Regions from separate parts of the Homo sapiens genome. Here region 2 is linked to region 1. The links come from fine-mapping of genetic effects on gene expression. A gene starts in region 1. The other region holds a variant in brackets. All regions are shown on one strand. Distances are from middle to middle. Region 1 holds the start of POU2F2 (POU class 2 homeobox 2). Region 2 overlaps POU2F2 (POU class 2 homeobox 2).

Region 1 (14,934 bases):
AGGCGCCTGCTCCCACAGGTCATTCAGAGACCCTGGTGAGCACATGGCAGTGGATGCCAAGGGACCCTGTTCCTGGGGGATCTGCAGTCTGAATGAGACTCACACAAGCCAGGTTGAGGAGCAGTGAGCTCAACAAAACAGCTGAAGCACAAGCTTTGGGGTCAACAAGCCTCTGGGTTCACTCCAGCCTCATTGTGTGACTGTGGGCCTCAGCTTCCTCATCTTTAAAGTGAGGATGATAATGGTCTCTCCCTCATAAGATGACAGTGAGGAGTAAGTGGGTTGCCGAGTATACCCAGCCAGGGCCTCTTTAGAGTAGGTTGGCCATGCTTTACCTCCCTATTTGTCAATGGCCAGTTGAGCCGTCAGTCCATCTCACCCGTTCTTGTTTCTTTCAAGCTACAGAATGTTAGAGCTGGGGCCGGGCCACAGTGGCTCATGCCTGTAATTCCAGCACTTTGGGAGGCTGAGGTGGGTGGATCACTTGAGGGCAGGAGTTTGAGATCAGCCTGGCCAACATGGTGAAACCCTATTTCTACTAAAAATACAAAAATTAGCTGGGCATGGTGGCGCATGGTTGTAGCCCCAGCTACTCAGGAGACTGAGGCAAGAGAATCACTTGAACCCAGGAGGTGGAGGTTGCAGTGAGCCAAATAAAGTAAAATAAAATAAAAGAATGTTCAAGCTGGAAGAAGTCTTAGAGTGCTTCTCCAGCCCATCTCAGACATATATCTGGGGAAACTGAGGTCCAGGGAGTTCAGGGGGCTGGCCCTAGGTCACTAGAGGGCGAATTTCAGAACAGGGACTGGTTGGTCTTCTTTTATTTGTTGGTTTGTTTTTCAGAGACAGTCTCGCTCTGTCACCCAGGCTGAAGTAGAGTGGTGTGATCTCAGCTCACTGCAACCTCCGCCTCCTGGGTTCAAGCGATTTTCCTGCCTCAGTTTCTCAAGTAGCTGGGACTACAGGCGTGCGCCACCATGCCCAGCTAATTTTTGTATTTTTCAGTAGAGATGGGGTTTTATTGTATGTTGGCCAGGCTGGTCTTGAACTCCTGACCTCAGGTGATCCGCCCTCGTCGACCTTGCAAAGTGCTGGGATTACAGGTGTGAGCCACCACACCCGGCCAGTTAGTCTTCTTTTATCTTCTTTGAGCCACATCACAGTGCTTCTTTTCTTACATGAGGCGAACTGGGAATTCTGGTGGATGTGGAAAATTGGCTGTGGTGGGGAGATATGATGAGGAATGTTTGTATCCATGTGAATTTGTTAAGCATCTGCTGACTTCTGGTCCACAGACCTTGCTTCTTGGAAGATGCTGCTTCCTGACTTTCCCCCTGGAACTGACCCAAGTGTCTTCCCCCTGCTTCCCTTCTCACTGTGTCTTTCAGTGATGGCCTCGCATCCACCCAGCCACCCCAGCCCAGCACCCACTTCTCATATCCTGTTCCTGTAGACTCCAGCTTGAATATGTATCCTCATCCTAATCCTCATGGCTCCTTTCTCCCCTGCCGCCTTGGACCACTGTCCCAGCCTCCCCATTGGTCATCCTGTCTCCAGATTCCATGCTACCAGCCGGTCCCCACATTTGTCCCCAGTAGAACTTCCTTACACAGAATGCTTCTGCGCAGAAGCCTTCCACCTGCAACTTCAAATCCAACCTCAAAGGAACTTGAGGACAAACTTGGGAAAGCCAAGTTTGTCTCCACCTTGGGGTCTTCAACCTTGGCAACCCCCTTGAATGCTGTTTCCCACCTCCTGCCCTTCCTTTCATCCTTCAGGACCTCAGGTCCTACCCTGATCTTTCTTACCTGAGCTTAAGCTCTTCCACCTGCCCCAATCTTCTGTGCCAGGAAAGATACTTTAACATACCTGGACCTCATTCTTGACTTCTCCGTGACTCCCATGCCCCACATTCAGCCAATCACCAATTATTGCTTCCTGTCATCATCACCTGATGGTGATGTGGAATTCATCAGCTTCCTCACGCTGACCCCCACACTCCATCCTCTGGTTCTTCACTGCGGCCTCCAAAGCAGCCAGGATTGTCACAAAAGTGTTCATAGAACCATGCCACTCCCCTGCTTGAAACCTTCTCAGGTGTCCCACTGTTCTTGAAGTCCCAAATTCTTACCTTGGCCTGCAAGGCCCTGTGCGATCTGGCCCTGGCCGCCTCTCCACCTCACACCTCGTCTCCTATCTTCTCTTCTTTGTTCACTCTGCTCCAGCTCTATAGGCCTCCTTTCTGATCCTGGAATTGCCACACTGTTTGTTTCCATGGGGCCATCGCCTCCTCTGTTCCCATTGCCTGGAGTGTCTTCCTTCACATTCTTTGCCTCGAGAATACTGTGTCTAATTGCTATGTAAATGTCACTTCCTTGGGACAGTTTTCTGCAACATGCCATCCTTTGTTTACATCAGGTATCCTCCTTCTACTTTTTTTAAGAGTCAGGGTCTCTCTCTGTCACCCAGGCTGGAGTGCAGTGGCATGATCGTAGCTCACTGCAGCCTCGACCTCAAGCAATCTTCCCGCCTCAGCCTCTCGAGTAGCTGGGACTACAGACGCACACCACCACACCCAGCTAAGTTAAAACAATTTTTTTTGTAGAGATGGGGTCTCGATATGTTGTCCAGACAGGTCTCAAACTCCTGGTGTCAAGCAACTCTCCCACCTCAGCCTCTCAAAGCGCCAGGATTACAGGTGTGAGCCACCATGCCCAGCCCCTCCTCTACCTATTCTTGAAATCACTTTTCCTAACTTAGAATTACATATTTATTTGATGGCTTTTTATTTTTTATTTTATTTATTTATTTATTTATTTTAGAGATTGAGTCTTGCTCTGTCACTCAGGCTGGAGAGCAGTGGTGCCATCATAGCTCATTGCAGCCTTGAACTCCTGGGCTCAAGTGATCCTCCTGCTTTACCCTCCAGAGGAGCCAGGACTACAGGGGTATGCCACCATGCCCTGCTAGTTGATAACTTTTAAAAATTATTTCTCCCCCAAAGACTATAAGCTCTATGGGTTGCTTTTAACCACTGTATTCTCTGAGCTTAGCAATGGCTTGGCACATAATAGCATTTATTGGATATTTATTAAGTGATAAATTACCAAGGTATTTTTATCCACTCCAGTCTTCCTCTCAGACTGTTAGCTCCTTGAGGTCAGATTTTAGATCTAGCTCACCTCTGGGTCCTCAGCTCCCAGCACAGGGCTTGGCACTGAGGGACATGAGGAAATGTTTGAATTGAAGGAAATGGGGAAGGGTTGGCCCACCTTCAGCCAGGAGCTGATGGGATCAGGAGTCCAGTGCATTGCCGAATATCAAGAAACTGACTCGAAGGCTGTGGGCGTTGGACTGTGAGCTGCAGAGGTATTCCAGCATTGCTGACTGGACAAGGAGTGGCTGGCTGTTGCTGTTGTCTCCTGAAGGATGGGGAGCATTTCACGCCTCCAAGAAGGAGCTCCATGGCTCAGTACAGAGAGATCAAGCTGTCAGGGGGACAGACCTGGGCTTAAATCCTGACTCCACCACTCATGCTGTGTGACTTGGGGCAGGAGACTTCACCTTTCTGAGGCTCAATTTGTTAGTAAAATGAGGATGATAGCAGACCTTTACCTCCTCAGACTGTCATGAGGACTTAGAAATAATATATTGGTTCAAATAGCACAGAGTAGTCCAGGCACAGTGGCTCACGACTGTAATCTCAGCACTTTGGGAGGCTGAGGCGGGTGGATGGCTTTGAGCCTAGGAGTTCTGAGACCAGCCTGGGCAACATGGCAAAACCCATGTCTCTACTAAAAATACAAAACTAGCTGGATGTGGTGGTGCACGCCTGTGGTCCCAGCTATCTGGGAGGCTGAGGTGGGAGGATGGCATGAGCCTGGGAGGCAGAGTTTGCAGTGAGCCAAGATCATGCCACTGCACTCCAGCCTGAGTGACAGAGCCAGACAGTCTCAAAAAAAAAAAAAAAAAAGGAAAGCATAGACCACAATGCTGTGGGGGCTGCTGCTGCTAATGAAGACAAAGAGGAAGATATATTTTAAGTCCCTGAATGCTGGATACTCCTAAGCAGAACTTGACTTTGACTTAGGGCTGCTGGAGAAGCAAAGGGGCACTTCGGGTCTAGAGGGCAAAGCAGGTGTGTAAACAGGAAATAGGCTTGAGGTCATGTCTGTAATCCCAGCACTTTGGGAGGCTGAGGTGTGTGGATCACATGATCTCAGGAGTTCGAGACCAGTTTGGCCAATGTGGTGAAACCCTGTCTCTCCTAAAAACACAAAAATTAGCCTGGCCTGGTGGTGTGCACCTGTAATCCCGGCTACTCGGGAGGCTGAGGAGGCGTGAGATGCGCTTGAACCCAGGAGGCGGAGGTTGCAGTGAGCCGGGATTGTGCCATTGCACTCCAGCCTGAGCGACAGAGTGAGACTCTGTCTCAAAGGAAAAAAAAAAAAAAAGAGCCTGGACTTTAAAAATAAAGCTAAAGCTTAATTTAATTTTTTTTAAAAGGGGAAATAGGCTTGAGCCTAGAAGCCAGGAAAGTGGGCAAGAGTGGCAAGCAGTGTCTCGGGTGGGCCAGAGCTGAGGCTGGGCATGGTTTGAGGGTCTCTGAGGCCCACTGGGGGACCACATGGCCCTGCAGCAGGAGCAGACACACATCTCTTTGTGTATGTGTTTGTCTGCCACCCCTATCATCCTGTTTTCCTGCCACCCCTATCATCCTGTTTTCCTGCTTGTTTGGGTCCCTAGGTTAGCTTTCCCTAACCCCCCAGAGGCTGCCCCTGGCCTGGGCGCTGCTGAAGCCCCGTGTGCTTAGATGCAGCAAGGGGACTGGGCAGAGGGAGGTGGGTATCATTGAGTCTTGGGCCCAAGTTCATCTCCTGGCCCAGCCATGGACTCAGAGTATGGCCTGAGGCTTGGTCTCCCTGTCTCCTGCCAAGCTAGGGGTCTGAGGAGCCTCTCTGAGCTCCCACATGCCACAGCCCTACAGATGAGGGCAGTGCCTATGGGGAAAGAACCCTTGGGTTCCCTCACAGAGCAAGGATGATGCTGGGGGCTGAGTAGAGAGATCACCAAAGCAGCAGACATTCAGAGAGAGGCTGGGGAACTGAGCCACAGAGAGGGTCCCCAGGGGTGGCCAAGAGGAAGAGGCCATGGCTGGGGGGCCCTGAGGGGTGAAGAATCTCGCTCTGCTGTCCCCGGTGGGCTGGCTGCTCCCCCCCACCACTCCCCGCCGGGCCCCCGGGGGACCTCGCTCTAATAATGTATTTGATCGACTCGCCGGCCGCGTACAAGCGATTATTGTCTTGTCGGGAGTCAAACGTATCGATCCGGCGAGAAATATGAGCGGAGCAATGGGGCCCGCGTGTCAGTTACCAGCCCCGCTGGCCCTGGGGAGCCCCCTACGTCTCCTTTAATTACCGCTCAGCCCTGAGCCCAGCCTGGCCTCCCCTGTACCGCCTCCCTCCCAGCTCCCTGCACCTCAAGTGGCCCCCACTGCTCCCTAGCTCCCATGCCCTACCTGCCTCCCTCAGCATGGCTCGAGGCCTCTTCTGTGGCAACGAGGCCACCATCTCCCCCTGCCTTGAGCCTCCCTGTTCCAGCTGCCAGTGTGTTCCAAACTCTGCCCCTCTATCCTCTCTCAGGCAGGCCCATCCTCCTTCAAGATCCCCTCACCAGGCCCAGCTCTGGTCTGAGGCACTGAGAATGGAGCCAGCATGGGAGGCGAGAGGTGTGGGGTTGTTTCATCTCTCAGGGAGCGTATACAGCCTTCCCCGGCTCCAGGACTGAACTGCAGACCTGGCCGCACTGGAAGTGGGTGGTCCTTCTCTGCTGGCTCTAGGGGGCTGGAATGGGGTCACATCCAAAAGCGTGTTCCTGACGTGGATGATGTTGAGTCTGTCCAGGGTGGAGCATAAGGGTGGCTGGTGAGGTTTTGCCCCCCCCCATAATGTCCTATAGCCCCATTTCCAAGCCCCCCAAAACAAATCCTAACTGAAAACAAAGCTTACTGCGTAAATGTCGCTTTGAGACAAGGCTCCAGTGTCCACTGCTACCAGGCTGCTGTCGGGAAGACCCTCATGTATAGAAATCCTGTGGCCAGTTGCTGTGTGGTCTGTGGATCTCCTCTGTGAAATGGCCTTTACGATACGGGATGTTGTGGAGTGTAGATGCCGGGAAACGGTCACCTCTCGTGTGCATATATGAGAACTGCCAGTCCTTCCTGTTGTGCCCACCTGCTTGCCTGGGTGTGTCTGGGTGCACAGGGCACGTGTGCAGTCAGGGGAGGGCACTCCTGTAGTTGTGCCTGTAGTATACCCTTTCTGAGTGTGCCTGTGTGTGAGTGGGTGCGAGTGGCCAGGAAGTATGCTTGGGCACATATGTGTAGAAGTGCCCTTGTGCCCATGGGTCCATGTGAGGGAGTAGAGGAGGTATCAGTATATGGGAGTGACCATCGTCAGCAGGGAGGGCTGGTGTTGGGGCCTGTGCACATAGATGTGTTCATGCACGTGTGTGTGCACACGTGTGTGTGTGTGAAGTGCTGGGGTTCATCTGTAGAAATACTTGTGTGTGTGAGGGTGAGTCCAGGCGTCTGTGCATGCACCTGTGGTTTAGGGGGCCCCCCAGCCACGGGGCGCAGGATGTCCTGCGGGGCCCAGGCGGGCATGTGGGGTGTCTGGAGACGCCAGGCAGCCCCACAGCCTCAGACCTCGGGCACCAAGAGGAAGAGGGCAGCGGACTCGGGCGCGCCTTTGTCTGAGCTGCGGTGCGCCGGGAGTCCTGCGCCTTTGTGTGACCCTCGCAGGTGTGCGAGCGGAGGTGTTGGGAGGGTGTTGGGGAGGGGAGCGGAGGGAGGGGCTCCCTTCTCCGCAGCCGGCCCCGCCCTCCGGCCCATTGGCTGGGCGCTGCCGCCCTCTGGCGGGCACGGAGGGAAGCGCTGAAATGGGAGCGCCGCAGCGCGAAGAGCCAGCCGGCAGCCCGGGGACCTGGTGCTCCCCTCCACTGGAGCCGCCTCGGGCGCCCGCATTTGGCCGGCGACTTATTGTAGCCCCAGGCCAAGTCCCCGACCCACCGTCCCCACTACCACTGCCCACGGGCACCACTTCCTCCCAATGGTGGCACCCAACAGCTCACCTGCAGATAGGCGCAGGGCTTGCTTGATCTTCCCTGCCGCGGCGTGCTTTTAAGCTTCAACGCTTCTTGGCTCTGGGCCTTTGGGAAAGCTACTGCTCACCTCTCTGATCCTCAGTCTTTTCATCTGTAAAATGGGGCAAATAAGAGTGACCACCACATTGGAGATGGCACCTGTCAAGAGTGAGGCACAGGGTCAGGCATCGGCAAAGCCCTCTCTCCAATAAGCTGCTGGCTAGTGTTTTATTGTTGTTACTGCTGTGGACCCACCTTCTCTCCCAGACCCCCATTCCCTGTTCCAGACTTGTTTGCCTCCATGGGGGCGACAGAAGTCGGGGGGCAACTGTTGCAGGCACCTCTTGGATCGCAGCCGTAGGAGTCGGCTCTTCCAGCCTGCTTATCCTCTGCCCCACTAGCCCCCACCCCCCAGCACACACACATGATTTGGGGTGGGCCGGGCTGCCGGGGCGGGTCTGTGGGCCAGGGTATTTTCCCTTCTGAAGGGGGCGGACCGGCCCTGTGGTTTCCTCCCTGAGTGACTTCCGGCAGGGAGGGCTCGGCCCCCAGAGAGGGTGGGGAGATGACACAGTTGTTCCCCCAGCCCTGGCGGGGCGGGCAGCATGGTTCACTCCAGCATGGGGGCTCCAGGTAAGGGGGCTGGTGCCTGTGCCACTGCTCAGAGGACAGGCAGCACATTTAGGTTTGCTCTGCGGGCCCTGCCTGCCCCTCCTCCTCAGCTGTCTCCATTGTCCTTCTCCTCTGTACTCTAGCAACTCCCTCTCTCCCATGCCGGGTCCCCGCTAACCCCCACAGCTCCTCTTTGCCCTCTCTTTCCACATCAGGCACCGGAACTTCCAACATCTTCTCTTCTCTGTTGCCCTGTTCCGAAGGGTCTGGGGACGGGAGGGAGGGAGCTGGGTGTTGGTAGCGGGCCCTCATGTGGAGAACCAGTGGGGTGGGTGACATGGGCAATCCTTGGATAAGGGCTGCAAAGGGATTGGAATGCCAAGTTGCTGGACTTGGGGGATGTCATTCCCTTTTGAGTGTGTGTGTGCACATCTGGTACAGGTGTGCGTGTGCATGTGTGTGTGCAGTAGTTCTGAGTGCTCTGAGTGGGACTGCTGTGTGCTTGTGAGTGTAGGGGGCTGTTGTGTGTGGCATTGTGGGGTGATGATTGCCTGGCTCCCTTCTTCACTTCATTCACCTCAGATGTCACCTCCTCAGGGCAGCCTTCCCTGACCTCCCCATCTAAACTGGCACTGATCCTGTCACTCTCAGTCCCCTCACCCTGCTTTATCTTTTCTTCACGGCACGTATCACTGCTGGGAATTTCATTATGTGTTTGTTTGTGTGCTTATTAAATGCCTTCTCCACCAAATGTCAGTTGGCTGAGTGAACATTGTGCACCAGGCACTGTACAAGGTGATTTATAGCTGTTGGCTCATTTAGTAGAATGTGTATATGTCTGTATGGTGATGGCTATCACTCAGCAGTGTTGATGGGAGTCTTAAATGAGGTAATACATGTAGCATGCTTAGCACAGTGCCTGGAACATGGCAAGCACTCAGCCCTTCATGCCTGTTTCATTTGTGGCTGTGTAGGCATGACCATGGGCATGAGTCTTGGTTTGGTGGTGTGTGCTGTCCTATATGCGCCATTGTGTGCGGGCACCCGTGTGTCCTCCACCAACATGTATCTATTGAGTAGTTCTGTGTTGGGTGTTGGAAGTACAGTGGAAAGGGTAGCTCAGGTCTGTCCTCCTGGAGCTCCCAGTTTATTGGAGAAGACAGACCTGTCACCAATGACAGTACAGACAGGTCAGGGCTGGGATGGGGGAGGTCCAGGCAGAGGGATCAGGGCTGGGATGGGGGAGGCCCAGGCAGAGGGGTCAGGGCTGGGATGGGGGAGGCCCAGGCAGAAGGGTCAGGGCTGGGGTGGTGGGCACAGGCAGAGGTGTCGGGGTGGGATGGGGGGACAAAGGTAGAGGGGTTGGGGCTGGGATGAGGGAGGCCCCAAGCAGAGGGGTCAGGGCTGGGGTTGGGGAGGCTCAGGCAGAGGGGTCAGGGCTGGGATGGGGGGACATAGGTAGAGGGGTTGGGGCTGGGATGGGGGAGGCCCAGGCAGAGGGGTCAGGGCTGGGATAGGGGGACATAGGTAGAGGGGTTGGGCCAGGACGGGGAGGTATTAGGGGATCGTAGGAGCCCTGAAAACATGTGATTTAGTTGGTAGAGTGTCAAGGAGGGCTTCCTGGAGGAAGGGGGTGTCTGAGCAGGGATATGAAGAATGAGTGGGTATGAGCAAGCAAAGGCGGTGAGGAGAGGGGTGGGATGAAAGGAAGACTATTTGCAGGGTGACATGTTTATTTGTTGAGGTGACTGTGTATGCAACTGTGTATATGTGTGTGTGTCCATACAGTGTAGACACAGAGATCCAGGGTGTCTGCTCCCACTGACTCGTTCCTCTCTGGGGTTAAATGGGGACCTCAGAGGTGCTGGGCAGTAGGCTAAACCCTTTACTTGGGATTTCTCACAGAACAGCCCAGTGTGGGAAGACTGGGGTGAATTTTCCCTGCCTGGACATGAATTAATACACTGTGTGGCTGTGGGCAGATCACTCACCCTGCCTGGTCTCAGACTCCACACCTGTGAACTGGGTTCAGAGGTCAGCCCTGGCCATCTTCCAGGATAAGGTGACTCTGGGTGTATGTGTGTGCACTTGTGTTTGTGTGTGTGACTCTGTGTGAGCATGTGCATGTCTGGGTGTGTATCTCTGGCTGGACTGATGTGACTTGGTGTGAGAACATGTGTAAGTACATGTGTGCGTACACATGTCTGAGTCTGTGAGTGACTGGGTGTAGTATGTAGGGGGAGGGTGTATGTCTGTGTTCGACTCCGGGTGTGTGAGTTTGTATACTTTTTACGTGTGTCTGGCTGGCTGTGTGTCACTCAGTGTGAGAGTGTGTGTGAGTGCATGTGTGTACGCACGTTTGGGTGTGTGTTTTGCATATATGCCCGTGGCATCATGTCTGGGCATGTGTCGTATCTGCAAACCTGTTCACATTCCTGTCTGGAATCTGTGCACATCTGTTTCTTGTATTGTGTTGGCCGGGGCCTTGCCTGGCTGTGGCCATGGGGTGTGTACTGTTGGCAGCTCTTGCCTGCTGTCAGCGCAGCTGTGGGGCCACCTCTCTTGTTGTGTCTGCTGCCTGTATCTCCATCCCTCCCTCCTGACAACTCAGAAATGTTCACTCCCTTGAGGCCACCCAGGGACAGCTGTGGGGTGGGGAGGGGTGAGGTGCTGCTTCTGGGGAGGACGGGGGCTCGGCCAGCTGGGCCCACAGAGGTTCCCGGCAGCACCAACCTGCCCACAGGGGCTCCCAGGCCATACCCCTAATTGAAGCAGGCTGCGGAGGCAGGGGACCCAGGGGACAGGACAAGTGGGGCCAGGAGGGGTGAGGGGCAGTCCTTGGGCCCTCTATATTTAGCCCCGTTTTCGGTAAGTGCTAACGAGAAGCTGGCCTAAGTCTGCTAAAACTGGCGGGGGGAAATGCAGAGGAGAAGTGAAAGTCCGGGGAGGGAGGAGTGGGAGGGTGGAGAGGACCAAGAGTCCCAGGCCTGGGGCAGTCGGGCAAGTGAGTGTGAGCTCAGGGCTGGGCAGCCCTGGTTGAGGGGTGTCTGACCTGAGGAAGGTGGGATTCAAGGGGCAACATGGCTCCAAGGGGCCTGGTAGGGCTATGCATTGCTTTTTCTCTTTCAGTTCCCCTAAAATATTACACATTACCTATGATGAGGGGTGGGAATAGCCATACATAACCAACCAATCTTTTGTGTGTGAATGAGGCTTTGAGAGGGGCTTCTGAAGGTGCCAGGGGATGGAGCACATTAGAATCACCAGGAGGGGGCTGGGTGCGGTGGCTCATGCCTGTAATCCCAGCACTTTGGAATGCTGAGGTGGGCGGATCACTTGAGGTCAGGAGTTCGAGACCAGCCTGCCCAACATGGTGAAACCCCGTCTCTAATAAAAATACAAAAATTAGCCGGGCATGGTGATGCATGCCTGTAATTGCAGCTACTCGGGAGGCTGAGGCAGGAGAATCGCTTGAACCCAGGAGGCAAAGGTTGCAGTGAGCTGAGATCATACCATTGCACTCCAGCCTGGGCGACAGAGTGAGACTCTGTCTAAAAAAAAAAAAAGAGAATCACCTGGAGGGGCTTTTAAATATCTGGATGCCCAAGTCACACCCTGTACCACTGAAATCAGAGTCTAGGGTGGGAACAGGCATCAATATTTTTCTAGAGTTGAGTGATAGGCGATGGGCATCTCTGCCTGGGCTCAGGCTGAGGCTGAGGCCGAGCCATTTGATGGACCCTCCAAGTCTATGATTGCTAGTGCCCTGGAGTCCCTGTTAAGGCGTCATTTGGCTTTTAGTCCACGGTGGAAATGGAGCTCCCTGTTCATTCCTGGTGGAAATGATCTGACCCTTCTCTCAGATTGAGCTCTGACAGGGGAGGTGGAAAGAGAAAAGACAAAGGGCAGCAGTTGGCCATTTTGTTGTGACCCAGCCAAGTGTGGGGCAGGGAGTATGCAGGGATATGTAGGAGTGGTTGGGATAATTTAGGGAGAATAAGGGTAACAGAATGGTGAAAAATTTCCCTCAAACCACTCTTGTCTTTCCAGCCACAGTCTCTGCAGAGGAAATCATACCTTAAAGATTTAAGTTAGGGTTTCTTGGGGATGTTGGGTGACAGTAGAGATAGGGGTTTGTTTTAGACAGGATTGGGCCCTGGTCAGTTAGGGGATTCTTTAATGCATTCATTCATTCCAAAGACGTACTCCTAGGCCTGTGCAGCAATGACTCCAGCCTGGGCTCCTGAGGAGCCCACAGTTGGGGTGGAGGTCTCTGCCCAGGATGATCAGGATGTGGTGGAGCACAGTACAGGGTCAGTGAAGCCCAGAAGAGAGAGACACTGACCATCTGGGGAATCAGAGAGTACTTCACAGAGGAGGTGACATTTGAGCTGGACCTTAAAGAGGAGCAAGAGTTTGCCAGTAGAGAAGGAAAGGGTCACCCAAGTGGGAGACGAGCAGAGGCAAAGGCCTGGGGGAGGGAGATCAGGACCTTGGGGCCACTGATCCACATGTCTTCTGCTGGGGAGTGTTTAGGAACCTGAGATCAGATCTGCCCTTGAAAAATTCCTAGTCTGATAGGGGAGACATAGTGGGGCCCGGCTAGCTACAGTCAGCCTCTAAGACAGTGACAAGGGAAGGTGCTAGGGTATGGGGAGCTGGAGAGAGACCTGGCTGGGAGCTGGGGGCATCAAGGTGGTGGTTTCATAGAAAACAGAGCTTATGGCCGGGCGTGGTGGCTCACGCCTGTAATCCCAGCATTTTGGGAGGCTGAGGTGGGCAGATCATGAGGTCAGGAGATTGAGACCATCCTGGCTAACACAGTGAAACCCCTTCTCTACTAAATATACAAAAATTAGCCAGTCGTAGTGGCGCGCACATGTAATCCCAGCTATTTGGGAGCCTGAGGCAGGGAATTGCTTCAACCCAGGAGACCTCTGGAGCTTGCAGTGAGCCGAGATCCCACCACTGCACTCCAGCCTGGACAACACAGCAAGACTCCATCTCAAAAAAAAAGAAAAGAAAACAGAGCTTATGCTGGGTTCTGAAGGATGAGTCCGGGGGTCGCCAGGTGGACAGATTGGGGAACAGTGTTCCAGACAGAGGGAACAGCCCATGCCAAGGCCTCAGGAAATGTTTTAAATGGCAAAGTGCAGGCATGGTGGCTCATGGCTGTAATCCCAGAACTTTGGGAGGCCAAGGCATGAGGATCATTTGAGCCCACGAGTCTGAGACCAGCCTGGACAACATAAGGAGACCCGTCTCTACAAAAAAAAAAAATTTTTTTTTTAATTAGCTGGATGTGGTGGTGCACAGCTGTAGTCCCTGGATGTGGTGGTGCACACCTGTAGTCCCAGCTACTCAGGAGGCTGGGATGGGAGGATAGCTTGACCCCAGGAGGTCGAGGCTGCAGTGAGCCGTGATTGTGCCACTGCATTCCAGCCTGGCCGACAGAGCAAGACTCTTGTCTCAAAATATAAATTAAATAAAATAAATAGCAGGGAGACAGTAAGACAAGGGTGAGAAGTAGTAGGAAACAGAGACTGCTAAAGAGAGGGACATTCAGCAGTTACAACCCGTTCTGGGCTTGTGATGCTGGGGACCCAGTGATGAGTCAGACCAGGCCTGTCGCATTGGTCTTGTGGGGAAGGAACCTGGACACAGACAGCCACAACTGGGGGCTCAGGGATGGGACAGCAGGAGGGCAGGGGCTGTGAGAGGCTTAGTTTGCTAGGGCTTCCACATCAAAGTACCACAGACTAGGTGGCTGAAATAAGAGAAATTCATTTTCACAATTACGGAGGCTGTAAGTTAAAGACGAGGATGTCAGCAGGGTTGGTCTCTTCCAAGGCCTCTCTCCTTGGCTTGTGGTCCACTGGTCTTCTCCTGGGTCTTCATATGGTCTTCCCTCTGTTCCCATCTGTGACCTAATTCCCTCTTTTTCTTCTTTTTTTTTTTTTTTGAGATGGAGTCTTGCTCTGTCACTCAGGCTGTAGTGCAGTGGCACGATCTCGGCTGCCTGCAACCTCTGCCTCCTGGGTTCAGGTGATTCTCCTACCTCAGCCTCCTGAGTAGCTGGGATTACAGGCACACACTACCATGCCCGGCTAATTTTTGTATTTTTAGTAGGGGTAGGATTTCACATTGTTGGTTAGGCTGGCCTCAAACTCCTGAACTGGTGATCTGCCCACCTCGGCCTCCCAAAGTGCTGGGATTACAGGCATGAGCCACCGCGCCCGCCCCCTCTTCTTATAAGGATGCCAGTCAGATTGTAGTAAGGTCCACCCTAATGACCTTATTTTACCTTAATTACGTCTTTAAAGACCCTATCTCCAAATACAATTACATTTTGAGGTATCAGGAATTAGGACTTCCGTGTATGAATTTTGGTAGATGCAACTTAGCCCATAGCAGAGGTTAAGGATGAGTGTGGACTTTCTGGGCTGGCAGTGGGGTCCGAGGCTGCCCTGTTCTGTGGACGGGAGAGGGATGCCCAGCTAGGTGGGAGTGTAGAACCTGCACAGCCTGCTGTCAAGCAGACCCCCAAGCAGGGGGAGATGCTCGACATGGGTGAAGAGCACTGTGCATGAGCTGCAAGAGAAGAGCAGTACAGGGTGGTGGGCCAGCCCCTGGAGGCCAGGTTGTTTATTTCTCCAGGAGATAGGGAGGAGCCAGGAAAGGATTGCCCTGAGGCAATGTGGAGCTCCGCTGGAGGGACGGAGGCCAGAGGAGGCTGGGGCTGCAGTTTTAGGGATGCTAGGAGGGGTGGGATTTAGGACCGGGTTAGAGTTAGTGGCTGCCTGAAGTAGGGCTAAGGTCTGGGTGAACTAGAGCTAGGATCAGGCAGGATTCCCGCCTTTACTGCTCCAAAGTCAGGACACACTTGCTGCCCAGCTCCCTTCTTGTCCTTCTTATATCTTGTATCAGTAGCCATTTAATGCCCTGTCCCCAGGGCCAGGAAACAGGACCTGAACTCTGGTAGCGTCCTGGGCACCCACTCCCCACCCCCACCCTCAACAGTCTACATCTTTTTTTTTTTTTTTGAGACAGAGTCTTGCTCTATTATCCAAGCTGGAGTGCAGTGGTACAATCACGGCTCACTGTAGCCTCAATCTCCTGGGCTCGAGCGACCTTCCCATCTCAGCCTACTGAGTAGCTGGGACTGTAGGTGCCCACCAC
Region 2 (14,934 bases), 46 kb after region 1:
TGGCTCTGGGTGTCCATGGGCCTCAAGACTGGGCCTGGGGAGTGTGGGTGGGGGAATGGGAGAGACAGTGGGAAGAGGGTAGGACTCACCCCTCCTCTGCAGGAGCAACTCAGCTTTAATCTGCTTCACGATTTCATATGAGAAAAGCATGGGCCTGGTAAAAGGTGAGGCACTTGAGTTTTGTGCCTGGCCTCTGTCATTTTTAAGCTGTGTGAATTCAAGCACTTATTTTATCCTTCTAAGCCTCAGTTTTTATTAAATTATTATGAATGTGTAAAACATAAAAAGATATAAATACATGTATGTAAGAGTGTATGTGTATGTACATATACACACATACATGCATACATACATAGTCTTGTATCCAGAGTTCCCCTCCCTCTTCCTGGGACACGGTAGGTTTATATGTATGGTTATACACCATATATATAATAATAATATAAAATTCGCTGGGTGTGGTGGCTTATGCCTATAATCCCTGCTCTTTGGGAGGCCAAGGCATGTGGATCACCTGAGGTCAGGAGTTCGAGACCAGCCTGGCCAACATGGTAAGCCCTGTCTCTACTAAAAATACAAAAATTAGCTGGGCGTGGTGGCGTGTGTCTGTAATCCCAGCTACTCGGGAGGCTGAGGCAGGAGAATCACTTGAATCCGGGAGGAGGAGGTTGCAGTGAACTGAGATCACACCACTGCACTCTAGCCTGGTGACAGAGTGAGATTCCATCTCAAAAAAAAAAAAAAAAAAAATATATATATATATATATATATACACACACACATAATATATATATGCATAATATATATACACATAATATATATACACATAAAACAACACGTTGCCCCTCCCCAGGCTAGAAAATAGTAAGTGGAGATTTATAAAGTAGTAAGTGCTTGCCTGGCACTGTACTAAACTCTTTCTAAACTGCATTGACTGACTTAATTCTCAAACTCATTTTATGAGATAGGGTCTATTATTATCCCCATTTTCCAGACAAGGGATCTGAAGGTCAGAGAGGTTAAGGCACTCACCCAAGGGCACCACTGGGATGAGACAGAGCCAGGAGTTTCTACCCCAGCAGTCTGGCTGAGTCTGGGCCCTCAGCCCCTGCCAGGTTGCCCATCCCTCAGATGTGGCAGTGTGCCTGGCACCCTTCGCCCCTCCCCAGCCCCTAGAGGGAGCCATAGGGCTTTGTCTCCTGGGCACCCCCGTTTCTAGTCGGTAAAAAAGTGGTTCAGGGCAGGGAGTGTAGAGTGCCAGGGCTCAGCAGGAAGCACCTGCTCTGACTTCCATTGTTATGACAGGGGTCACCATGGCAGAGGCACAGGGAAATGACTCTGGGAAGAGAGGGCAGGGAGGTCTAAGGCTGTTCTGACTGAGGAGATGCTGCGTGAGCTGGGCGGGAGGACAAGTAGGAGCTGACCCCAGGTTCCTCAGTGGGGGACGAGTGGAAGCTGAAGACCCCATCTTTCTGTCTCTCTCTGGCAGTTACTACCTTATCCTCAGCTGTGGGGACGCTCCACCCCAGCCGGACAGCTGGAGGGGGTGGGGGCGGGGGCGGGGCTGCGCCCCCCCTCAATTCCATCCCCTCTGTCACTCCCCCACCCCCGGCCACCACCAACAGCACAAACCCCAGCCCTCAAGGCAGCCACTCGGCTATCGGCTTGTCAGGCCTGAACCCCAGCACGGGGTAAGTGGGTGCACGTGGGAAGCTGTGGGGAGAAGCAGGGTCGCTGCTGCTTCTAGGGTGGGGAGCGGCACCCCAGTTATGTTGGCAGGTCCCTGCCCCTGCTAATGCCTCTGCTTTGCCTCTTGCAGAAGCACAATGGTGGGGTTGAGCTCCGGGCTGAGTCCAGCCCTCATGAGCAACAACCCTTTGGCCACTATCCAAGGTGCGTGCTGCCTCATGTCACACCCATCGTCACCAGCCCTATCCTCTGGGGCCTCGAGCCCTGCCATTGCTGCTCCAGCCATGCCATCCTGCCCCTGCTCACTGCATTGCTTGCCTCTTCATACCCATCTCACCTTTGGGGAAGGTGTGAGGGGTGCTGATGGGGGTCAGTGGGACCGATGGGGAGATGGGGGGCACTCTGGGCAGGATGCTGGAAGGCAAAGGTCTCCCCTGGCCCGGCATGCCCTTAGCCCAGCCTCTCTCTCTCCCCGCCAGCCCTGGCCTCTGGTGGAACCCTGCCCCTTACCAGCCTTGATGGCAGCGGGAATCTGGTGCTGGGGGCAGCCGGTGCAGCCCCGGGGAGCCCTGGCCTGGTGACCTCGCCGCTCTTCTTGAATCATGCTGGGCTGCCCCTGCTCAGCACCCCGCCTGGTGTGGGCCTGGTCTCAGCAGCGGCTGCGGCTGTGGCAGCCTCCATCTCCAGCAAGTCTCCTGGCCTCTCCTCCTCATCCTCTTCATCCTCATCCTCCTCCTCCTCCACTTGCAGCGAGACGGCAGCACAGACCCCTGGAGGTCCAGGGGGGCCCGAGGCAGGGTCCAAACCTGAGTGAGGGCCAGCCATGCCTCCCCTCCCATTCCTCTGGTCCCTGCCTTGGTCCCTTGCCTGGGAAGAGGGCGAGGAGGCCAGTGGTGGGGACGCAGAGGGTCCTCAGAGCAGGAGTGACAAGGGAGGAAAGACCAAAAAAACAACCAACCAAAAAAAAAAAAAAAAAGGAAAGAAACTAACCAACAAAAGAGAAAACCAAAAATAATCACAACAGAAACCAGCTGCCCCAAAGGAACCAGAGGTGAAAAACAAACAAAAAAAAACCAAAAACAAACCAAAAAAAAAAAAAACCCACAAAATCAAACAAACCAAAAAACCAGTCGCGAGCCAGACCTCAGCGTGCTCACCCTCACTGCTACGACGCCAAATAAAAACCCCAGCCAGGGGCGGAGAAGCCTCCAGCAGGTCAGACCTCATGCCACCGAGCCCTGGCTGTGGGACCAACCCCCAACCCTGCCTCCCCCGTGGGGGCTACAGAAGGAAAAAGAGAAGATGCCAGCTTCCTAATCCCAGCCCCCAGCCCTGGGCCAGCGAAGACAGGGCACAGCCTGGGCAGATGGGCTGGGGCTTAGCACCACCCACCAAATGTTCTTTTCCAGAAGGTGAAAGAGAAAGGGCCTGAACAACCTTACACCAAATATTCAGTAGCTTCATCCAAAGGATGTACAGAATTTTTAGCATTGTGCTCAACAGAATGTGTCCCTACCATGTGTCCCCTTCTCCCCTGGCCCCCAGCTCTCCCCACCTGGGCAGGGGGTCTTGCTTTAACCTCCTCCCTCCCCCCAGCAGGGGAGAGTTCAAGGGAAGGCCTGCGGACAACTTTTCATCCCCTGTTCCTCCCTCTTTTCCCCTTTGAAGGGTGGGCTAGGCCATTTTGCCAAGTTCTAGCTCTCACAAGTCCCTCCTCAACCCTGTCACCCTCCTCTGCTCTGGAACTGACTCCCTCCCCAGCCTATGGGAAGGTGGAAATTTCAGGCAAGAGGGGATGAAGACATTCAGTTGAGGGCATTCAGTTGTCTTTTTCCATCCTGTCTGTTTCCCTGAAAAAAAAAAAAATTCATATTCCAGTGCCTATCCGTGGGATCCTTCACGTTCTTTGACATTAACCAGAAACCAAAAAGAGAACTCACCTCGCTTTTCCCACCCTGTGCCCCTCTGGTACTGGCGAATGCCTCTCCCTCCCCCCACATGCACGCACGCACACACCCCAGTGGTGGGGTTCCTCGAGATGGCATCCCCATCAGGGTCCATGTGGTGGGGACAGTGCCACAGCCTGTGGTCCCCATCTGAGAGGGCGCGGTGGTGGCCACCACTCCCACAAGACCTCCACAACTCTTGGCTGGACCCTGTGTTTGACCAGCCCCGGACACGTCTCCACTGACGACGGACAGAGGAGAGACACCACTGGGAGCCACCCTGCCCTCCTGCTATTGTGGAGGCCAACAAAGTTTTGAACCGAAAACCAAAAAAACAGAAACAAACAAACAATAAATTTAAACTAGAAAAAAAATTTATATATATATATAAACATATATATATATATATATATAAAAGGGAAAGAAGATGAGGACTCTTCAAGAATAAGATGGAACCGCGAGGCGGAGCCAAGCCCCTGCACCGGTGGTCCAGGCCCTTGTTCCCCAAGGCGGATGGAAGGACGGATGCTTCTTTCTCTTCACAAATACCTCATGGACGTTGTCTTTGGGAAAGCCGGAGGGGGCGGCTGGGGCAGGGCCTGTCCCTCGGCCAGGGCAGATGGAAGCGGGTGGGCGGGGCTGAGAGAGGGTATCAGGGACAGGGGTGAAGAGCCCCAAACTCCCCTCCCAAATCAACTGAAAAAGCTTTAAAAAAAGACAGGAAAAAAAGGAGTAAGAAAGCAAAAAGAACAGATGAAGGAAAACTTAACAACTTTTGGGTGGTTTGATTCCTCCTTTGATTTCTTTTTCGGTTCTCTTTTGTCTGACCTCTCTCCTCCCCTCCTTCCTCTCTCCTCCCCTCCTTCCTCTCTCCTCTCCTCCTTCCTGTCTCCTCTCTCTCCCTTTGCTCTCCTCTCTTCTCTCTCAATCTTGTTCTTTCTGTGTCTCTCCTCAAACCAAAGTGTTGCAGTGAAGGACACGAGCCATTGAAATCAGGGTGGGGCCTGACAGCCGTAGTGTGGCCCCTGCCCCTTGTTGGGCAGGAGCAGAGAGAGAGGAGAGCCCTGAGACCGCAGGGCTTTGGCCTGGGCAGCTTCCACTTTCTGCCGGACACTCTGAGGAGAGGCAGATGGAGCTCCAGGCCTCAGCGTTCTCTTTTTTCCTTGTCTCCCTTCTCCCACCCGGGAAATGAAACTGTTGGGCTGGGCGACGGAGGCAGCAGAGACTCGGCCATTGCAGGGGCCTCTGGGTGCCTTGTCCGGGCAGTGGTGAAGTAGCCGCCCCTCCCACCCCGGCACGATGGGGCCTGGCACCTCGTCTACCCAACCTCACCGGAATGTAAGCATCTCCGCTGAACGACTCCCTGCCCTTACCCTACCTCTGAGTTTGTCCATGTTTATTTCCTGAAGAGAGAAGGGACTGGCAAGAGGGCTTGGGCCCCAGCCCAAGGGTGGAGAGGGGGCCAAGGGCTCCTGACCAAATAGGAAGGACATTTGAGCAGAGCAAAATGAAAGGAATTACAACCAAAAACCCCCTCCGAGAAGACAGGCAGCATGGAAGGCATGGTGGAGATGACTCAAACAAAAACTATGATTCTAGACCAAAAAGGAAAAAAAAAAAAAAAAAAGGAAAGAAAATCCAGGACTCACCACCACCCACTTCATCCTGCTTCCTCCCCATCAAGTCCCACCACCTGGGACCTCTCCCCACCCCAGTATGTGGGAGTGGGGTAAAGAGGAGAGGAGGAGCAGGGGGCAGGGATGGGGCAGATGCCCTGATGTTGGTGGAGGGACCCCTGTGCAGCCGGGGGTGCTGGGGACCCTCCCCATCCAACCCTCACACCTAGGAAAAGAAAAACAAGAAAAAAAAATTCCTGGGAGGGGGAAAAATAACCAAATCCCAAGCTTTAACTACAGCTGTGAAACCAAATATTGGGAAGGGGGTAGGAGGGAGGGAGGGGCAGGTGAGCCCCAGGTCTCCCCCTGGGCCCCCCTCCCCTGAGGACTCGAGATAAGGCACCAAATACCTCATAGAACTTTAATGTTAAAAAAAGGAAACCAAATATCGTTGGCTGGGGGCCAGCCAGGGCAAGGGGCTGGGGGGCTGGAGGGAGCCAGGGTTGGGAAGGTGATGGGGGAATTCATGCCCCCCACCCCCATCTGCCCCTTACACTCTGGTCCCCCGTCTCGACTCCGGGAAACAAAACTATCTCATCGTTTTTATTTTGTGGTCTGTACAGAGCCTGTGTCCGTGTGTCTGTGTATGAGCGAGAGAGTTGGAGGGCTGGGGAGCTTTATGTGGGGGATGGGGAGGGCAACCCCAGGCTAGGCTATGGGCTAGGTTAGATGTCCGAGGTTGGGGGCCAAGGGCCTGGGCTAGAAAGAGAGGAGAGATGAGTGGGTTGGAGCAGTGGGGAGCCCTCTGAATTTCTCTTCTCCCCAACCCTGACCTCCTACTTAAGGGAGGGACAGAGACTGGGTCTACCCTAATGGTGGGCCTTTTCATTGTGCCAAAAAAAAAAAAAAAAAAATTGATGCCAGTAACTAAACCACCTCTCTCTGTTCTCTTCTGGGGGGTGGGGTGGGTGTGTGTGTGGGGGTGGGTAGGGATGGGGAACCCAAGCCCCAGTAGGAGTTGGGGCTGAGATCAGGAGGAGGGGAAGGATATGAGTTTTCCATCCATCTCCCTGGAGAAGGCCATGACGGGCTCTCCAAGCCCTGGGGAGATCTGGCGAGGGACTAGCCAAGTCAGGGTGACCTCTTGACCTGACTAGTTTTTCTAACCCACATGAA[C/T]ACCAGGGTGCCTCTCTCTTCCTCTAGCCCAGGGTAGGGGGACCTGAGTGAGAGAGAGAGTGAGACAGACAGCAAGATTGAGACACGCGGGCCCCCACTGGTCTCTGAGTGGGAAAGGCAAGTGCGAGAGATAAAGGCCTCCAAGAGAAAAAAGAAACAAACCAAAGATTTAACCATTTAAAAAAAAAAAAAAACCCACAGACAACTCCGCTACCTTTTTATATGTTGGAAAAAAAGTGAAAAAAAATTAAAAATAAAAATAAAAAAAAATACACAAAAACTCCAAGCCGCAAGTCCTTCATGCGGTTTAAACTTTGACCTCAGCAGTCTCCAAAGCAAGACGACGATGACAAAGGCGGAAACAAAGAAAAAATAATGTATATTTTTAAGTATTTGTCCTTGAATTGTTAGCTCCTTGTTAAACAAACAAAAGGAGAGAAAAATCCAGAGAGAAGTGTTGCTGGGATGGAGACAACTATTTACTATGTCTGTGACCCCTCCCTTCTGCCTCCCTCCCCTTCCTCTCTTTCCTGTCCTCTATCCTTGCTGCCCCTCCCCCAATATGTCCCCCAAACCCAGGGGCTCAGTATTTATTTATTTATATAATTGCAGGGTGACTGGGGGCCTCTCTCGGCAACTCGTAGAGAGCCTTTGGATAATGGCAGGGTGGGGAATGGGCGAGGAGTCTTTGGGAAGAGCAGGGGCCTGAACTTTCAACTCCTTTCTGGCCTCTTGTCCCACTGCTTCCACCATCACCTTCCAAATCCAGGGCTGCACTAGGGCAAGGTGACCACCCTACTTGGTAAAGACCTGATTGGCGCAGCCCATTCTGGTGTGGGTGTCTTTCACCACCCAGAATGACCAGGTTGGAATGGGGGTGGGTGAAGTTGGAGGGGGTGGCAAGTACAAGGCAAGGGTGCCCAGGAACCGGCATCCAGAAATCAGCCCTGGAGTAGACCTGCCTTTCCTCCATCCTTACCAAGTTAGCCTCCCTTTCAGTTCCGTCTGACCCCTGTGTTGGTAGCCCCTTCCTTCCCTTCCTGTACCCCCTCCGTCTCTTCTCGTGGTAGCGGGTTAGTGTTTCAGTGTTCTTAACTCCAATCTGCTTGTTCATTGTACAATGTGCTTCTTTTAAGGCCCCATTTTTGTAACTTGAGTGTGTCATTCATCTGAACAACAAACATCAAAAAATAAAAAATTAAAAACTGTACAGAGAGAAATGATGCCTACTCTCCCTTGGTCTCCTCTCTGTCCTGGGAAGAGTGGTGAAGAAATCAGGGTGTGGGGTTGGAGATCTGTATGCTGGGGAGGGGAGGGTTTTACTTCTGTTCCAATAGTGAATGTTCACAGTCTGGGCAACATAGAACTCTTCTCTAAAAAAGCCCCAAAAACTCAACTCGGCATGGTGGCATGTGCCTGTTGTCTAGTCCTAGCTACTTGGGAGACTGAGGTGGAAGGATTGCTTGAGCCCGGGATGTCAAGGCCGCAGTGAACCGTAATCGTGCCACTGCACTCCAGTCTGGGTAACAGAGAGAGACCTTGTCTAAAAAACAAAAAAAACAAAAACAAAAAAAATTAAATTTTAAAAAATAGTGAATGTTTGGAAGTAAAACCTGCACAAATGTTCTTGCCAAAGAACCAAGTCTTTGAATTTAGGATGAATTCATACTTCTGAATTCAAATCTCAGTTCTGCCATTTTATAAATATATGACCTTCAATATGTGAGCTTCTGTGTCCTCATCTGTAAATAAGGGACAATACCTACCTCACAAGGTTGTAGGATGATGGTCTAAGTAAAGTGCTTAGGACTGAGCTCCAGCACACTGTCTTCAATATATGAGAACTATGAGAAAGCCAGGAAACCAGCAAATACCTCTCCATTTCCATCCCTGGATGCTTCCCCAGAGGACTAAAGAGACTCTTTAAAACCAGAGTTTCAATTAACACATTAAAAAGTTTCAACCTCACAAATAGTCAAATAAATTAACAGAAGAGTTATATGTCATTTTTTCACATCACCAAAAAAATGCAAAAAAAAAAAAAAAAAACACCCAAAAACAAACAAAAATGCCGGGAGCGGTGGCTCATGCCTGTAATCCCAACACTTTGGGAGGCCGAGGCGGGCGGATCACCTGAGGTCAGGAGTTCAAGATCAACCTGGCCAACATGACGAAACCCCGTCTCTACTAAAAATACAAAAATTAGCCGGACGTGGTGGCGCACGCCTGTAACCCAGCTACTCGGGAGGCTGAGGCTGGAGAATAGCTTGAATCCGGGAGGTGGAAGCTGTAGTGAGCTGAGGTCGTGTCACTGCACTCCAGACCAGGCGACAGAGCGAGACTCCATCTCAAAAAAAAAAAAAAAAAAGTCCGGGTGCAGTGGCTCAGGCCTGTAATCCCAGCACTTTGGGAGGCCGAGGCGGGTGGATTACGAGGTCAGGAGATCAAGACCATCCTGGCTAACACGGTGAAACCCCGTCTCTACCAAAAATACAAAAAATTAGCTGGGCATGGTGGCAGGCGCCTGTGGTCCCAGCTACTCAGGAGGCTGAGGCAGGAGAATGGCATGAACCCAGAGTCAGAGCTTGCAGTGAGCTGAGAATGTGCCACTGCACTCCAGCCTGGGCGACAGAGCGAGACTCCGTCTCAAAAACAAACAAACAAAAAAAACAGGCTATGTGTGGTGGCTCATGCCTGTAACCCTAGAATTTAGGAGGCCAAGGCAGGAAGAACCCTTGAGCCCAGGAGCTCGACACCAGCCTGGGCAACACAGTGAGACCCCATCTCTACAAAAATTGAACAAAATTGGGCCAGGTATGGTGGCTCACGCCTGGAATCCCAGCACTTTGGGAGGCCAAGGCAGGTGGATCATTATAATGGTCAGGACTTCGAGACCAGCCTGGCCAGTATGGTGAAACCGTCTGTACTAAAAATACAAAAATTAGCTGGGCGTGGTGGTGTACGCCTGTAGTCCCAGCTACTTGGGAGGCTGCGGCAGAAGAATCACTTGAACCTGGGAGGTGGAGGTTGCAGTGAGCCAAGATTGTGCCACTGCACTCCAGCCTGGGTGACAGAGCAAGACTCCATCTCAGGAAAAAAAAAAGCTGTTGCGTTTCCTCAGCACTGTTCCATCCTCTAATGTATGCTTGGCACACAGGTGCTGGGATCCTGCAAAGTCGATAGTGAGGGTTGGGGGAACTGAGGCACAGGAAAAAGGAATAGAGTGAAAGACAGGTTTCATATTTAGTAAGACAAAAAGTGTCAGCATTGCAGTGTTTTGGCAAGACAAAGAAAGCAAAGCCCCTCAACTCTCAAAACAAATCAACAGGGATGGGACATAAAAATAGTACATGGAGGAAGATCATTTGGTTCAGGCCCATCTTCAAGGTGGCACAGTCAGAACCAAACAGAACCCAAGACGCCATCTCTACAAAATAAAGTAGCCAGACGTGGTGGTGCTCGCCTGTCGTTCCAGCTACTTGGGAGGCTGAGGCAGGAGGATCACAGGATCACTTGAGCCTAGGAGGTTGAGGCTGCAGTGAGCTGTGATTGTGCAACTGCATTCCAGCCTGGGTGACAGAGCGAGACTCTGAAAAATAGAAAAAAACAGGCCAGGTGTGGTGCCTCATGCCTCTCATCCCAGCACTTTGGGAGGCCAAAATGGGATGATCCCTAGAGGCCAGGAGTTTGAGACCAGCCTGGCCAACACAGCAAGACCCCATTTTTAATAAAAAGATAAAAATAAAACCTAACACAGGAACAGAAAACCAAACACCACATGTTCTCACTCTTAAGTGGAAGCCGAACAATGAGAACATGTGGACACAGGGAGGGGAGCATCACACACCAGGACCTGTCAGAGGGTGAGGGGCTAGGGAGGGATAGCATTAGGAGAAATACCTAATGCAGATGACAGGTTGATGGGTACAGCAAACTACCATGGCATGTGTATACCTATGTAACAAACCTGCATGTTCTGCACATGTGCCCTAGAACTTAATTAAAAAGAATACTCCAAATCCTAGGATTTGGAACTATATATATGTATATAAACATTAAAATGTATGTTTGTATGTCTATAGAGTAAAACAAACTATAAAAAAATCTTTATATACATATATATTATTTACTGTATCTATTGTGTAATTTATATACATATAACAGGTAGGATACACACATACACACACACGCACATAACCTGATTTTTTTTTTGTATAAACAGAACCCTAATACATTAACTTTTCAAATGTTATGTCATTTATTTTACAAGAACAATTATTAGAATTTGTTTTAGGCCAGACGCGGTGGCTCATGCCTGTAATCCCAGCACTTTGGGAGGCTGAGGCAGGTAGATCACCTGAGGTCAGGAGTTCAAGACCAGCCCGACCAACATGGTGAAACCCTGTCTCTACTAAAAATACAAAAAACTAGCCTGGCATGGTGGTGCGCAGCTCTAATCCCAGCTACCTGGGAGGGTGAGGCAGAATTGCTTGAACCCAGGAGGCGGAGGTTGCAGTGAGCCGAGATCGTGCCATTGCACTCCAGCCTGGGTGATACAGTGAGACCCTGTCTTAAAAAAGGAGTTCTTTCAGGCCGGGCACAGTGGCTCATGCCTATAATTCCAGCACTTTGGGAGGCTGAGGTGGGCAGATCACCTGAGGTCAGGAGTTTGAGACCAGCCTGGCCAACATGGTGAAACCCCGTCTCTACTGAAAATACAAAAACGTAGCCGGGTGTGGTGGCACGCGCCTATAATCCCAGCTACTCGGGAGGCTGAGGCAGGAGAAACGCTTGAACCTGGGAGGTGGAGGCTGCAGTGAGCCGAGATCACACCACTGCACTCCAGCCTGGGCGGCAAAGACTCCAACTCAAAAATAAAAAGGAAAAAGAGTTCAACAGAAAGATCTGGAATAATCTTTGGGGGGGGGGGTCTCAGAAGCAAGGCTAGCACAGCAGCCTAGCATCCCACCAGTCACATACTCCCATCTTGTCTCTACCACCCTCCCCAAAGTATGCAGAAGGCAACAGAGTAGAGAGAAAAGCATATCGGTGATTAAACCAAATGAAATGAAATCAGGCTTAAATTCAAGCTCTGCCCTGCCTGGATTGAATGTGACCTTGGGCAAGTCATCTCAATGCTTTTGACTGGAGATTCCTTCCCTGCAAAATGTTCTCACGTAATCAGTGTGAATATTATTCAGTTATATAGTACTTGAGACTGACTAGATGTTCAAACATTAGCCAGCCATCCCAACAATCCATCACTCACAATAAAAATCTGTTGGCTGAGCCAAAGTCCAACTCCAGGGGAATTCAAGTCACCACCTCTCATGAATCTTCCTACATCCAGACACATATTATTCAGAATCTCCTTTAATTCCACAGCTCTAGAGATCATGCCTACCTGCATTTGCTCTTGGGGATCAATGAGAAAATCAGATGGCCTTGGGAGACAAGGTCCACATCAGGCCAGGAGTCAGGGACAGGAGTGTAAAAATCTGATTTCTCTGAAAGTTCCTGCCACCAGTACAAACACTCTTGAGCTTTTCCACAGAGCCATGGGACCTCTAGTGGCAAGAGAGCCATGCTACCTCCATCTAGCAGTGAAGTGAAGGCCCTGCTATGAGAGCCATGCCCATGAACACCAGGTCATTCTCTTCAGCCCAGCAAATGTTTACTGAGCTCCTACTACCCCTAATACCTGCCAGGCCCACTTCTGGGTGTTGGTGATGCAGCCACGAGAGGTAAGACCCATGACTCCCAAATTCCACTCTACACACTGCTGGCAACTCAGTCTTTATTGATGGTTTCATTTTTGGGGTCACCAGTGCTAAGAGGTGGAAGGTGGGGGGGCACCTTTATGTGTGTCAAGGACCCCAGAGCACCCCCCTCACGAGAGAATAAATCCAATTTAGAACTTACAAGGTGGTGGGGATGGGAAGAGGAAGGGACACAGTATGTACAGATGCTTAAGGGGATGCTGGAGGGCCTTCAGCAACAGGGAATGGAGGTGCCAAAGAGGAAGTCGGGCAGAGTCAGCCACTGATCTGGACCCCCTCAGCCTCGGCCAGAGGGTAGATCTCAATGGCTTCCACCAGGGGTAGCGCCTCCACAGCAGTCTCCATGACGGCCAGGCCAACGGCAGCCTCCGCCTCTGCCAGCTGCTGCCGCACAGCTGCCTGATGCTGCTGCTGATGGGTCTTGCGGTGCTTCCAGAGGTTGGAGAAGGAGCGGTAGCTCTTGCCACAGTCAGGGCAGGAGTAGGGTCGTTCGCCTGTGTGGATGCGGCGATGTTCTGCCAGGCGCATGGAGATGGCAAAGGCCTTGCCACACACTTCACAGGCAAAGGGCCGCTCACCTGTGTGCAGGCGCCGGTGGTCTTTCAGGTGGGTACTCTGACGGAACGCTTTGCCACAGTCTGGACATGGGTATGGCCGCTCACCTGTGTGGATGCGCCGGTGCACCTGCAGTGACGTCTCTGTGCTGAACAGCTTCTTGCACTCGCTGCACTCTAGACCCCGGCGGCGGGCAGGGGCCGCAGGGGATGCTGTAGCAGTGCTTCCAAGGGCTGCTGGAGAGGCAACTGGTGCACGAGTGGCCCGTGGGGCTCGAGGGGCAGGGGGCTCCTTAGCCAGGACCTCTCCAGGCCCAGCAGCTGCATGGGCCGCCTCGTGTGCCTGCAGTCGAGCAGCTGAGCCCACTTTCTTGCCACAGGTGCCACACTCAAAGCGCCGTGGGGCCTGGGCAGCAGCGGCTGCACAGCGGTGCTCCCGGAGCCGCAGTGAGGAGGGGAAGGCAGCCCCACAGGATGGGCAGCGGTGGGGCTGGCGCCCGGCATGGACCACGAGCTGGTGCACCTCCAGCAGCCGACGCAGCAAGAAGGAGCGGGGGCACTCGCGACACTTGTAGGGGTATTCACCTGTGTGATGGTAGCGGTGCATGAGCAGGCGGTAAGGACGGTGAAAACGCACCCCACATTCCTGGCAGCGGTAGGGGAAGTGCTGGGCATGCACCAAGCGGTGCTGCCTCAGTGTGGAGCTTTGCGTGAAAGCCTTGCCACAGTCCCCACACCGGTAGGGCCGCTCTCCTGTGTGTGTGAGCCGGTGGCGGGCCAGGTTGGCAGGTGAGTTGAAGGGCTTGGAGCAGTCAGGGCAGGGGAAGGGCCGCTCCCCTGTGTGTGTGCGCAGGTGGTTACGCACGTGAGACTTCTTCTTGAACATCTTGCCACAAATGCTGCATTTATGGCGCCGCTCCAGCCGATGCACAAAACGTTGGTGCCGGGTCAGCTGCAAGGCCTTTCCAAATTCACGGCTGCACAGGAGGCAGCGGTAGGTGCCTGGGGCAGCGGGCCCTGCTGAGGTCTCCTCAGACACAGGGGGCTCAGGGGCCTCTGGCTCTCCAGTCTCTGCTGGGGCTGGCTCAGGGAAACCAATGACAGGTTCCTCTGGTGGGACTGGTGTTGTGGGCAGAGGGACACCCCCTACCCCATGAGTACGCCGGTGATAAAGGAACTTGGTAAGGTTGACAAAGGTCTTCCCACATGGACATGAATGCAGAGGATTCGGGGTGTGGGCTCGCCGGTGGGCCAGGAGGAGGGCCTCTGTGCCGAAGGCCAGGCCACAGTCTACACACAGGAAGTGTGACTCGCTGCTATGGTCTCCAAGGTGCTGGTCCAGACTGGAAGGGCTAGGGAAGACACGACTGCACAGGGGGCACTTAAAGACGCCCTCCCGGTGACTCCGCAGGTGCTGCTGTAGCTGGTGGGGTGAGAGAAAGAGCTGGTCACAGGCTGAGCAGAAGAGCTCCTGTGTGGCTGCCCCGCCTGCTTCTCCACTGTTGTTCCTCCGGGCCCTGCGCCCCCGGCGATCCCGCCCAATGGCTTCACCATTGCGCAGCTCGTAACTGTGGTCAGAAGCTGGCAAGGGGTCAGGCTGAGACACAGGCACCTCTGCAGGTGACGAGGCCTGCACCTCCTGCTGTAAGGCAGGCTCCTGAGACTCGGGTACAGGAGCAGGGAAGTGAGTGGCCTGGTGCTCCAGGAAATCCGCCGGCAGCTGGAAGAGCTGGGAGCACTCAGAGCACTTGTAGAGGAGCAGCTCCACCTCAGTCACTACCTCAGTGGTGGTGGCAGCGGCAGATGGGACAGTCGCCCCTTCCCCACCCTCTTCTGCCTTTCGGTATGAGTGCTCCACAGCCACTCGGGCCTGGCCCACAGGAGGCCCTAGAACAACTGGGGACCCCAGGACAACAGGGGCAGGAGCCTTGGTGGGTGTGGCCCGGAGGTGCGTCTGCCGGTGGTTCAGCCAGAGCTCCTGGCTGGCAAAGAGAGCCTTGCAATCCACACACTCGTAGTGGATGGTGCTGGAGCTCAGGGGTGGTGCCTTAGGTGATGGCTCAGCTGGCACTGCCTCCTGGGGTGCCATCATCTTCAGGTGCAGCTCCTGGTGCTCCAGGAGCTGGCTGGGTGACATCAGCAGTTGACCACACTCCAGGCACTGGTACTGGCTCTC

What was found. PIP is the estimated chance that this variant, and not a neighbour inherited with it, causes the effect.
Region 2: its variant is fine-mapped to the expression of POU2F2 in testis (GTEx, PIP 0.91).

What each region holds. Positions count from the first base shown.
Region 1 is chr19:42,125,226-42,140,159 of GRCh38, reverse strand. It overlaps POU2F2 (POU class 2 homeobox 2), which reads left to right and starts at 7,714. Exons shown (of 15, transcript NM_001394376.1): 1 at 7,714-7,776. The coding sequence starts at 7,749. It overlaps LNROP (long non-coding regulator of POU2F2), which reads right to left and starts at 7,531. Exons shown (of 3, transcript NR_038332.1): 1 at 7,399-7,531; 2 at 7,132-7,255; 3 at 3,061-3,488. It overlaps MIR4323 (microRNA 4323), which reads left to right and starts at 6,647; the gene lies at 6,647-6,715. RefSeq lists silencers at 1-23, 6,773-7,032 and enhancers at 1-423, 6,443-6,492, 10,163-10,272.
Region 2 is chr19:42,078,823-42,093,756 of GRCh38, reverse strand. POU2F2 (POU class 2 homeobox 2) reads left to right here. Exons shown (of 15, transcript NM_001394376.1): 13 at 1,487-1,688; 14 at 1,817-1,890; 15 at 2,166-7,647. The coding sequence ends at 2,500. It overlaps ZNF574 (zinc finger protein 574), which reads right to left. Exons shown (of 2, transcript NM_022752.6): 2 at 12,205-14,934. The coding sequence ends at 12,460. Among named protein-coding and RNA genes, the nearest start is that of ZNF574, 10 kb to the right of the region's middle. The variant C/T (reference allele first, on the strand shown) is at 6,425.